Linked DNA regions of Homo sapiens. The protein of the gene in region 2 purifies or fractionates together with the protein of the main gene of each other region. This does not show direct contact. Each region holds a gene or a part of one and is shown on either strand. Other genes may lie near its edges. The genes, in order: SMARCA1, MYBL2 and SHPRH.

What was found.
Region 1: the proteins of MYBL2 (region 2) and SMARCA1 purify together in Homo sapiens (affinity purification with mass spectrometry, with the first as the bait; one large-scale study listed by BioGRID). This does not show direct contact.
Region 3: the proteins of MYBL2 (region 2) and SHPRH purify together in Homo sapiens (affinity purification with mass spectrometry, with the first as the bait; one large-scale study listed by BioGRID). This does not show direct contact.

The regions. Positions count from the first base shown.
Region 1 is NC_000023.11:129,467,886-129,471,540, reverse strand, and holds part of SMARCA1 (SWI/SNF-related matrix-associated actin-dependent regulator of chromatin subfamily A member 1), read left to right. Parts: intron 1-214; coding exon 215-337; intron 338-2,635; coding exon 2,636-2,768; intron 2,769-3,655.
Region 2 is NC_000020.11:43,698,011-43,701,665, forward strand, and holds part of MYBL2 (myb-related protein B), read left to right. Parts: intron 1-1,746; coding exon 1,747-2,034; intron 2,035-3,655. UniProt on the Homo sapiens protein: Transcription factor involved in the regulation of cell survival, proliferation, and differentiation. Transactivates the expression of the CLU gene.
Region 3 is NC_000006.12:145,919,231-145,922,885, reverse strand, and holds part of SHPRH (E3 ubiquitin-protein ligase SHPRH), read left to right. Parts: intron 1-49; coding exon 50-223; intron 224-537; coding exon 538-600; intron 601-1,493; coding exon 1,494-1,719; intron 1,720-3,394; coding exon 3,395-3,538; intron 3,539-3,655. UniProt on the Homo sapiens protein: E3 ubiquitin-protein ligase involved in DNA repair.

The DNA.
Region 1 (3,655 bases), on a different chromosome or scaffold from region 2:
TGAGTTTTAACTATGGAATATCATGTGGCACAAGAATGGTTTTTACTTCAATAGGATCATGGTAGCAGAAATGTGGAGAGGACCGTGTGTCATTCTGGCTATGATTTTATATTGTTTACTCTTGAAATAACTCTAAAGATTGATATGTGTATATACAGCCTTAGTAATTAATTTTTCTCATCAGTTTACTCTTAGTTTATCTCTTGATTTATAGGTTCCAAGGAATCCTGATATCCCAAATCCAGCTCTGGCTCAAAGAGAAGAGCAAAAAAAGATTGATGGAGCTGAACCTCTTACACCAGAAGAGACTGAAGAAAAGGAAAAACTTCTCACACAAGTAAAATATTTTCAATGGCTGTAATACTTACAGTCAATCAATAGAAAAAAAGAAAATATAGATCACACTTTTTATTGTATGGGCCTAGTATCCTAGTGTGACACACCAACAAAACTCAGGGCTATTTTGTAAACATGTTTAGACCAAATCTCCTTATTTTTAAAAATTGATCTTATAGAATATGCCCTTTTGGAAATAGTGGATAGTATGTATATGCAAAATATAAGTGTCAAGTATTAGCAATTTGACATACATTTTGCCAATTATAATAAGGTCAGTGAATCCACATTTGAATTCTGATAGACAGTAGTTATTAACATATTCTTTTTTGTTTTTTGAGACAGTCTCGCTCTGTCACCCAGGCCGGAGTGCAGTGGTGCGATCTGAGCTCACTGTATCCTCCACCTCCCAGGTTCAAGTGATTCTCCTGCCCAAGCCTCCCGAGTAGCTGGGATTACAGGCACCCACCACCGTGCCTGGCTAATTTTTGTGTTTTTAGTAGAGATGGGGTTTTGCCATGTTGGCCAGGCTGGTCTCAAACTCCTGACCTCAAGTGATCCACCCACCTCGGCCTCCCAAAGTGCAACTGATACTACAGGTGTGAGTCACCGTGCCAAGCCTGTTATTAACATATTCTTGAAAATTTAAATTTCTTTTGTTTATAGATGTGAATTGTCTCCTGAAGTTATATTCTACTAATTTTTTATTAATGGAATAATTTCATAATTTTCAAAATTCTTTTTATCTTTTTTTATAATTTTCATACAATGATGAGAGATTTCTGAAGCTTTTATTATTATTATTATTATTTAAGGTGATCATTGTATAACAATTATTAAATTAGGAAGGTTTCCATTTGAACAAAATATTAATGCTTTTAAGTCATTATTGCTATCATGAGTTTTACGAGTGTTCTACTTCTAAAATAAACTATAGAAGATAAAAATTTCAGCATAGAAGGCTTGCAAAATAAACAAAATGTGTACCGTAGGACATTACTTTAGTATAGAGGGTTGCCAGCAAGATTTATTTATTCAACAAATTTTGAACAATGTGCGATGCATAGTAGTAGGTAATTCTCCACGTTAATTATTGAAAGATAGTTTTTATATTTGTATATTATTTATTATATAGGTTTTTTTTGCTATAACGTAATTTTATTGTATGGATTTTCACAAATTACATTCATAAGTTTTTGAGCCAAATGCCTGGAAGTAATAAAGTTTAGTTTGAAAATATAATGGCAGATGGCTGAATATTAGAACTTACCACAGAATAAAATAAAACATTTAAATATTCATGTTCTATTTTCAAAATGTATTTCCTGAATGTAAAAGTAAAGTTATGGCTTTAGAATGCTACATGACTTGGAGTATATTGTGAATGTACGGTATAACATGAATATACAGTCTCAACTGAGATAATATTTTAGTTTGTAATTAGAAATATAATCAGTTTTCTGCTTCTCCTAGTATATGAATTCATTTTTGTCCTTCTCTGCTGCCTTAAATAATTAATCTTTTTCAAAAAACCATGGCAGTACGTAGGAACAAAATGTGGGGTCATCTGAAATCTTTATCAACTAAAAGCCAGGGATAGAGTTTTGCAGTGTCTGGAGTATCACATTTATGTGAGTTGGGGCTCGAGGAGTGGAAGACAAATTCTTGGTCTTGTGACTTCACAGACATGCTAATAATGCCAAGGGAATTTAAAACACTGGCTAAAGTGTTTTATGTTTTAGTAAAGAAATTGAGTGGCTCCAATAACGTTCTGCTTGTAGAAGTTCTATTTATGAACATAATTTAGAACAGAAATTATTTATTCACACTAGTTCAGAATGATGTAAAGAGCTACAATTTTTTTTTGCATTATCTTTTGGTTATTCCTCAGTGTTCTTTTGATTTAGTGCATCCACATTTCTCTCTTTTAATTTATGTAGGAACAGATCTGTGAAAAAAATCATTGAAGTACTAGAATATCACGACTTCAGCATTTATATTAGCATTTTTATTTTCATGCATTTGTATTTTAATGTAGGCATCTATAAAATATGAAATTAAAAACTACAGATCTTCGAACTATGTATCAACATTCTCTTTGTAATAGAAAAGCAGTTATTTCTATAACAACTCTCACTCAACTTTTGATTCCAACATAAAATATGTGCAATTTTATAAGGAGAAACATTTTAAGTCTTTTAAAGTGTTTTTTAATGTATCATTGTATAGAAGTAAATAGGGCAATAAATGGATTTATTAATTTAACCTCTATTGATAATGCTTAACTTTTTGTTCACAGGGTTTCACAAACTGGACTAAACGAGATTTTAACCAGTTTATTAAAGCTAATGAGAAATATGGAAGAGATGACATTGATAACATAGCTCGAGAGGTAGAGGGCAAATCCCCTGAGGAGGTCATGGAGTATTCAGGTTTGTATATAATTTGAAACATGGTGTTGTATTTTAACGTTATTCATTTATTTAGCATCAATTTAATTGTACCTTTGTTCAGAGATGTTTTAAACTTTTATGAATAAGACATAGATGAGAGTATAAACTATAATTGTATTTCTATGAAAAGGTTATAAGAAAGGTTATAAGATTTATCCTAACAAACTGACTGCTATTGTCTCTATCACCTAGCTAAAAGAGGCAAATAAAGCTCTGATAAAACAAGGGTGGCTCTTGGATAAGCATTGACAAAATTAGTTTCCCACCTTCCCACCTCTGGAATTTGGTCTTCTGGTTCAGTTCTGAGATTCACATTCAGTGGATTGAATTCGTGCCTTTCTTTCTAGGTCGTCCTTAAAGTAGAGAGTTCCTGTCAGGCCCATTTAGATGCTCAAACACCCTCAGAGTTCCACCCTATTCCAGAGAGTTCCTGTGGGTCCCATTAACTTGGGGCTAGCGGGCGTAGAGCTGAAAAGATTGCTTTAATCAATCTGTTAACTGGTCCTCAAATCCTCTCCCTCTCTTACTCACCTGTGTTGTTGAGCTCGACCAGAATCAGTTTAGCTGCTGAAGCATATGGATTTTTTTTACACTTACTGGTTTATTATAAAGGGTATTGTAAAGGATACAGATGAAGCGTGTAGGGCAAAGTATGGGCCAAGAGGGCGCAGCGCTTTGGTGCCCTCCCTGGGCGAAACCTCTTCGTGTTTAGCTATCCAGAAATCTTATTAAAAATAGGTAAATATGTCTAGCAAGTTTTCTATATGTAGTACATGGGACTTTTCTAACTTCCAAATAGGTTCAGCTCTTAAACTTATCATTTGAAACAAGATGTTTAGAATCTAGAGCATTTTTTGTCATTGAAA
Region 2 (3,655 bases):
GAGTAACAAATTACCCCTTAATTTGTTAATTTGTTATTTGGCTTGGTTGTCTTTTTTTTTTTTTTTTTTTATCTTGTTACTGGTTTGTACATTTTATTTGTATATTAAGGATGCTACTCCTTTATCATGTAGTAACTATTTTTTCCCAGTTTGGTAGCTTTTTTTCTTTATTTTATAAAGGTATAATTTACATACAATAAAATTCACTTTTTGTTTGTTCGTTTGTTTTATAGAGATGGGGTTTGCCCAGGCTGGTCTCGAACTCCTGGGCTCAAGGGATCTGTCTGCCTTGGCCTCCCAAAGTGTTGGGATTACAGGTGTGAGCCACCACGCCCCGCATATTTTTTTTTTTTTTTTTTTTTTTTTTTTTTTTTTTTTTTTTTTTGAGACAGAGTCTCGTTCTGTAGCCCAGGCTGGAGTGCAGTGGCGCAGTCTCGGCTCACTGCAAGCTCCATCTTCCGGGTTCACACCATTCTCCTGCCTCAGCCTCTCAAGTAGCTGGAACTACAGGCGCCTGCCACCACACCTGGCTAATTTTTTGTATTTTTAGTAGAGATGGGGTTTCACCGTGTTAGCCAGGATGGTCTCGATCCTCCTGACCTTGTGATCCGCCCGTCTCGGCCTCCCAATGTGCTGGGATTACAGGCGTGATTTTTTTTTTTTTTTTTTTTTTAAATGAGCAGGGTCTTGCTCTGTACCCCAGACTGTAGTGCAGTGGCGTGATCATAGCTCACTGCAACCTTGAACTCATGAACTCAAGGGGTCCTCTTGCCTGAGCTTTTCAGAGTTCTGGGATTACAGGTGTGAGCCGCCACACCCAGCCCCCTCCCCCCTCCCTTTTTTTTTTATTAGAGTCTTGTTGTGTTGCCCAGGCTGGAGTGCAGTGGTGTGATCATAGCCCATTGCAACCTTGAATTCAGGAACTCAAGGGACCCAATTGCCTCAGCCTCCCAAAGTGCTAGAGTTACAGGCATAAGCCACTGTACCTGGTCTTTTTATTTTTTAATGTTTATTAAGCATTAAAAATTTATTTTTTAATTTTTTTGAGACAGAGTTTTGCTCTTGTTACCTAGGCTGTAGTGCAATGGTGCGATCTCAGCTCACTGCAACCTCTGCCTCCCAGGTTCAAGCAATTCTCCTGCCTCAGCCTCCCGAGTAGCTAGGATTACAGGTGCCTGCCACCACACCTGGCTAATTTTGTTTTGTTTTGTTTTTAGTAGAGACAGGGTTTCACCATGTTGGCCAGGCTGATCTCGAACTCTTGACCTCAGGTGATCCACCAGCCTCGACCTCCCAAAGTGTTGGGATTACAGGCGTGAGCCTCTGCACCCAACCTCTGTGTATTACTTCTTTCATCTGAGCCATTTGAGAGTTAGTTATGTAGCATAGATTCCTAAGAATAAGGCCATTTGCTTACATAACCACAATAAAGTTATATTCAATCCAGGGAATTTAAGCCTAATTCAGGATCTTTATCTACAGTTTATATTCCATTTTTCCCTGTCCATGATGCAGTCTAAGACCAGACATTGCATTTAGTTGTCCTATCCCTTTAGTCAGCCTTTCTTAGTGTCATGATGTTGACATTTTGGAAGTATATGGTATGGCTAATTATTCTGTAGAATGTTTCTCTATTTGGGTTCATCACAGTTTCCTTCTTAGATTCAGGTTGTGTGGTTTAGCTGGAAACTACTATATAGTCTATATCTCAGCGAAATGCAAATGGTGTATTCTTGTGTCTTACAGGGAAGTCTTCTGACCAACTGGCCCTCCGTCCCTCCTACCATAAAGGAGGAGGAAAACAGTGAGGAGGAACTTGCAGCAGCCACCACATCGAAGGAACAGGAGCCCATCGGTACAGATCTGGACGCAGTGCGAACACCAGAGCCCTTGGAGGAATTCCCGAAGCGTGAGGACCAGGAAGGCTCCCCACCAGAAACGAGCCTGCCTTACAAGTGGGTGGTGGAGGCAGCTAACCTCCTCATCCCTGCTGTGGGTTCTAGCCTCTCTGAAGCCCTGGACTTGATCGAGTCGGTATGTTGGTCACAACACTTCACAGTGAGCACAGAACACCCCCAGCAGGAAGTGCTTCTCTCTCAGGCCCACATCCTTTTGCTCATTCCATCGCCCTGCTAACAGTTACTGACTTGATGCTGAATGCCTAGCCCTGACCCAAGGGCTGGGGACACCAGGGTTGTCAGCATGCAGTCCCTATCCTTGGGGAGCTCCCGGTGTGTGCAGCAGGAGTTTGTGGTGGCATCTGACCTCTATGTATGGCACAGGGCGGGGTGGGAAGGCTGCCCAGAGGAGGTGGCACTGAACTGAGTCCTAAAGGTTGACTGGCAGGTGACAGCACAGGACAGCGTGGTATTTGTGGCATCACACATGGTTGGGTCTCCCTGAAGAGGAGCCCAGGAAATGCCAAGTCTTGGTGCTGGTCTTGGAGTGGTGAGTGGGTTCTGGTTACTCAGGGTGGGGCAGCCATTGAGCCCGTGTTGTGGTTACTGTGTTGGCTGTGTGGTTGTGTCCTTTGAGGAGGGCTTCTTGGTGTGACACCCCGGCTCCTGGCTGCATCGGCCAGGCCTGCTGTGTAGAGCGGGTTTTGGGAGGTGAAAGACCAGAGGCCTGGTCACTAGGGTGGGGAGTTCAGTATGGGGGTCCGTGTTCGCCTTTCCACCCAGGTGTCTCCCATCCTAGAACATCTAACTGCCAGGGTCTGAGCTTAACATACAGTCTGCGTGGTATCCTGTGAGGTGTGTCATTTCTGTTTTTTAGGTGAAACTGAGGCTCAGAGAGGTCAAGTAGTGTACCCAAGGTTGCACAGCAAGTATACTTGGTGGTCTTGACTGCCATGCTATGCTCCTGCTACTATCGCTTGGCAGGCACAGCTCGCTTGTATTGAGCACCCACTGATTGCCGGAGCCAGTGCTTAATGAGTAATTACAGTACCTAACATTGGAGTGCTTGCCGCGTGCCAGGCCCATCACTTGCTACCTAATGTGTAGGCTCTTAGTTGGTCTTTAACAGCCTGTGAGGTGGGTAGTGGACTCATCAACAGTGAGAGCACCCCACGCTCAGAGAGGTTAGGAGACTTGGCCAGGTTCACACAGCCGGTGACCTCCAGGAACAGGAGTTAAACCTTGCTGTCCGGCTCAGAGCTCAGGCTCTTTCCACAATGACCTTCAGCGCCTGTTGGGGGAGTTACTGCGTGTGTGGAAATCCCATCTTCCCTCCTCTGCTCCGTCCACTTCAGTGGTCCTTGTAGGATGTACTTCTGGTCTACCAGACACTGTCGGTGCTGGGTCCTCCCTGAATTGGGGTGTGGGCCTGAGGTCGGTCCTGCCCCCCAGCTGGCCTCCACCCTTAGGAGTGAACTACCCCAGGGAACCAGAACTCGGCTTTAGTGTCTGGGTCCACTCAGAAGCCAGAACCCAAAGACCAAAGTGGAAGCCTCTGTGTCCAGAAGCCTTTTGGTTTGTGTTGTGATTTATTGGGTAAAGGAGGGAAAACCTGTAGTGACTCACGGGCTTGTTCTAGAAGCTGAGTGAGTAACTTTGGGAAGACCGAATCCCCTTAGCTCAGCTTCCTTGGTATGAAAGGGAAAGTAATGCTTCCCTAGCAGAATTGTGGGGATTGGAAATAACTTTTGTGAGCT
Region 3 (3,655 bases), on a different chromosome or scaffold from region 2:
CCTATTATTCTTTTCTTTGTATTGTGTGTGGTGCTGGTGTGGGAATCAGGTTCCGTGATTGCAGAGGTCTTCAGTTCTTACTTACAACACAAATGGAAGAGCTAAATAAATGCCAGAAGCTAGTAAGAGAGGCTGTAAAAAACCTGGAGGGACCTCCATCTCGTAATGTTATTGAGTCTGCAACAGTCTGTCACCTCCGACCAGCCAGACTTCCTCTCAACTGGTAGGTAATAGAAGAAATCATACAATGAAATGGTACCATTTCTTTAAGCTAGATTTCTTAGAGAAGAAACAATTGACTCATATAGTAAAGGTTTTTTCATTTTAATTGAGACAGAAGTAGAAAGAGATGTATTAATCTAATTTAAAGAAAAATAAAGTCTCAAGGACAAGGTATGAAAAACCATGTGATTTGTTTTTTCTAAAATGGCATATCTAGTGGAAAGAAAAATGAAGTCAAAATATTAAGCTTCTCCTTAAAATTACCAGATTGCTGGTTATGTTTGTGAATATTTCTGTTAATCTCTTTTTTTTCAGCTGTGTCTTTTGTAAAGCTGATGAATTGTTCACAGAGTATGAATCAAAGCTATTTTCCAACACGTAAGTTCTCTATTTGATTATTACCCATCAAGAAAATGAAACATTTTGCAAGACTCAGTTATGTGATATAAGACTATGTTTTCCCCCACAGTAACCTTTATTATATTGTTTCTTTAATTAAATTGATTAGTACACCTTTGGTATTTGATTGTTTAATATGCCCAGTTTTACCTATCCAGAAGTTATCCCCTAAATGTTCATAGTGTAGTAATATATAATTAATTGAGATGCAGTTTTGTGGAGTGGTAAAATCCCAGACTCTAGAATCCAGTGGATTTGAATTATACAGATTTTGCTAGCATTTTACTGCTATTCAAGGTAGAACTCATAATGTCCGGCATAACTTCTTCAAGAATAAAGAATGACACAATCAAATATGTTATTACTTTAATGAAACCATAAGTAAACATTGTCACAAACACCTGGATTCTCAGAGGGAAGCTTGTTAGAACAATAAATGTGTCCACTTTCATCCAGGTGTATTACTATTCTATTTTAGGTCAAATCTTTTTCTGTTATTACTGAAGTAAATAATACATTTCTTCATGTTTCTGTCCAAATTCTGTTTATTTATCTCCAACAGATATAACTTCTCTAAAATAGAAATTTTCCTCACATATTTCCTTGCCAAACGTTCACTTCTGCATGTCAAGGAAGAAAACAAGATTTTTGTGTTGTTATGGCAAATGAATCAGTAGCTTTCTGTTTATTACAGTGGATATAATAGAATTTAAAAAAAAAAAAACTGGCCAAATTTATGATGTTTTCAGCTTTTTCAAGGTTGCTTTGGTTTTTCCAAAGACTTGCAAACATGTTCTTTTAGAACTCACATTGAAGGTTGCTTTTCACTCACTGATACCAGTTACTGTTGTTTTGTTCTGGTATGTTTTCAGAGTCAAAGGCCAGACTGCAATATTTGAGGAGATGATAGAAGATGAAGAAGGACTGGTGGATGATCGAGCACCTACCACCACCCGGGGTCTCTGGGCAATAAGTGAGACAGAGCGATCTATGAAAGCAATACTATCATTTGCAAAATCACATAGGTTTGATGTTGAATTTGTTGATGAAGGAAGCACTTCAATGGATCTCTTTGAAGCATGGAAGAAGGAATATAAGGTATAGTATTTTAAAACTTCCTTCCAAAATTAAAAATTCTTCTTTTTTACATCAATTTTAACTGCTACTTTTTTCTCTCTCCAGTTTTTTAAAATCTTCTTTTGAGATTGAGGTGGCATAATTTCTCTTTGCCTGAAATGTAACTGTTGTAATAAAGGATAGCAAATACCATAATACTCAAAGACATTCTATTTATTAAATTACTAAAAGAAAATCATTATTAAACTGGAACTTATATGAAACTTTTTGTTTAGCCGTGAAAGTGTGTTCATTCTATTATTAGCTTGATCTTCCACTGCTATTATATGAAATTAGAGTTTTGTTTTTGTTCTGTGAATAACAAGCAAGCATCAGCTACCTTAAAGATTGGGGAACATAGTAAATACTTCTTATCCTATAAGTTTGGAAACCATTCCAATAAATAAAGCCCGATATGCCCTTTCATATTTGTACTTTAATGATTCCATCATATTATACCTCTGTACTTGAGATTTCACAATTCATTAATTTTCAATTATTGTTTTATTTGGATTAGTTATCCATTGTACTGCTTTACAGGTGACATAGGTAGAGGAAGGAAAGAAGTGTTTTTTTATAATGACATTTTTATTCAATTTCTTTTTTAAAAAGTCTTGCTTTTTAAAGTAGGATAAAAATTTTTATGCAGAGAGATAGTTATTTGTACTATCAGTTCATATGTCATAAATTGGGGAATACATTTATAACATCAAAATCATTGGTTTATAATAATGTTTTTCTCACACATTACTCATGTGAATACAAAGCACGTTAACACAGTTAATTACAGTAAGCCTTGGAAGAAGTGTTACTTATGATGTTCAGTTGCCCCTGTATTCTTCCTTTCGACTCAGTTTGGCCACATACCCTTTGTCCAGAAGAGAGCTTACTGTGCAGTTCTCCCAGGTCTTGGTACATATTTTCTGCATAACTTTGCAGACCTTTTCACAGAAGAGCAATTGAATGAGCTCCTGCTGTACATATCTACCAGATCTACCTCAAAATGTAAAGTCAGTGAAGAGAGCCTGTCAAAAAATGTATACTGATTGATACCATTTCTGTGAATTTCAGAAACATATATAACTGAATTATTAAGAATATGTTTCACATAGTATAAGTTCAATGAAAAGTGTAGCAGGATAAGTACAATTCAGAATAGTGGTTGCCCCATGGTTGGGTACTGAAGGAGGAATATGTGAGGAAAGAGTGATACAGTTGAGAAAGAACACACAGAGCCTTTCCAAGGAATTCATATTATTCTTTCTTCAATTAAATGATGAGTACTTGATTGTATATTTTAGTATTCTTGTTGCCATTTATACATAGTTGAATATGTGAAATATGTTATAATAAAACTATTTTTAAAAAATAAAACAAGAGATTCTGTCAGCCTAAAACTGGACTTTATAAAGATTTTTGGTCTTAGCAAGAAATCTTTATATTCTGTTACTGAGAATCTAAAGAGGCAGTGTCCTATAGAGATTTTTTTCATTCACATTTCATCCTAAAAATGACCCCAGGAACTACTTGTACGTTAGACACATAGCGAAAAAGTGTAAGATCTCATTGAAGACTTTTGCTTAAGGCACATCTTGGTGGTTTTAACCAGTTTTAATTACATGCTTTACCACTGTGTTTGTCTTTTCTATTCCTTCAGTTGCTTCATGAATATTGGATGGCTCTGAGGAATCGTGTGTCTGCTGTTGATGAACTTGCAATGGCTACAGAACGACTAAGAGTGCGTGATCCTAGGGAGCCAAAGCCTAATCCGCCTGTTCTTCATATCATTGAACCACATGAGGTAATTGGCAAGTAAATCACAGAAAAGGGAACAGCAAGCAGATGTCACAGATATCTAAGACCCATAGAAAAGGCAGAATCAGGGCACTGAGCTCTACTGTAAGTGTGTATTTAATCT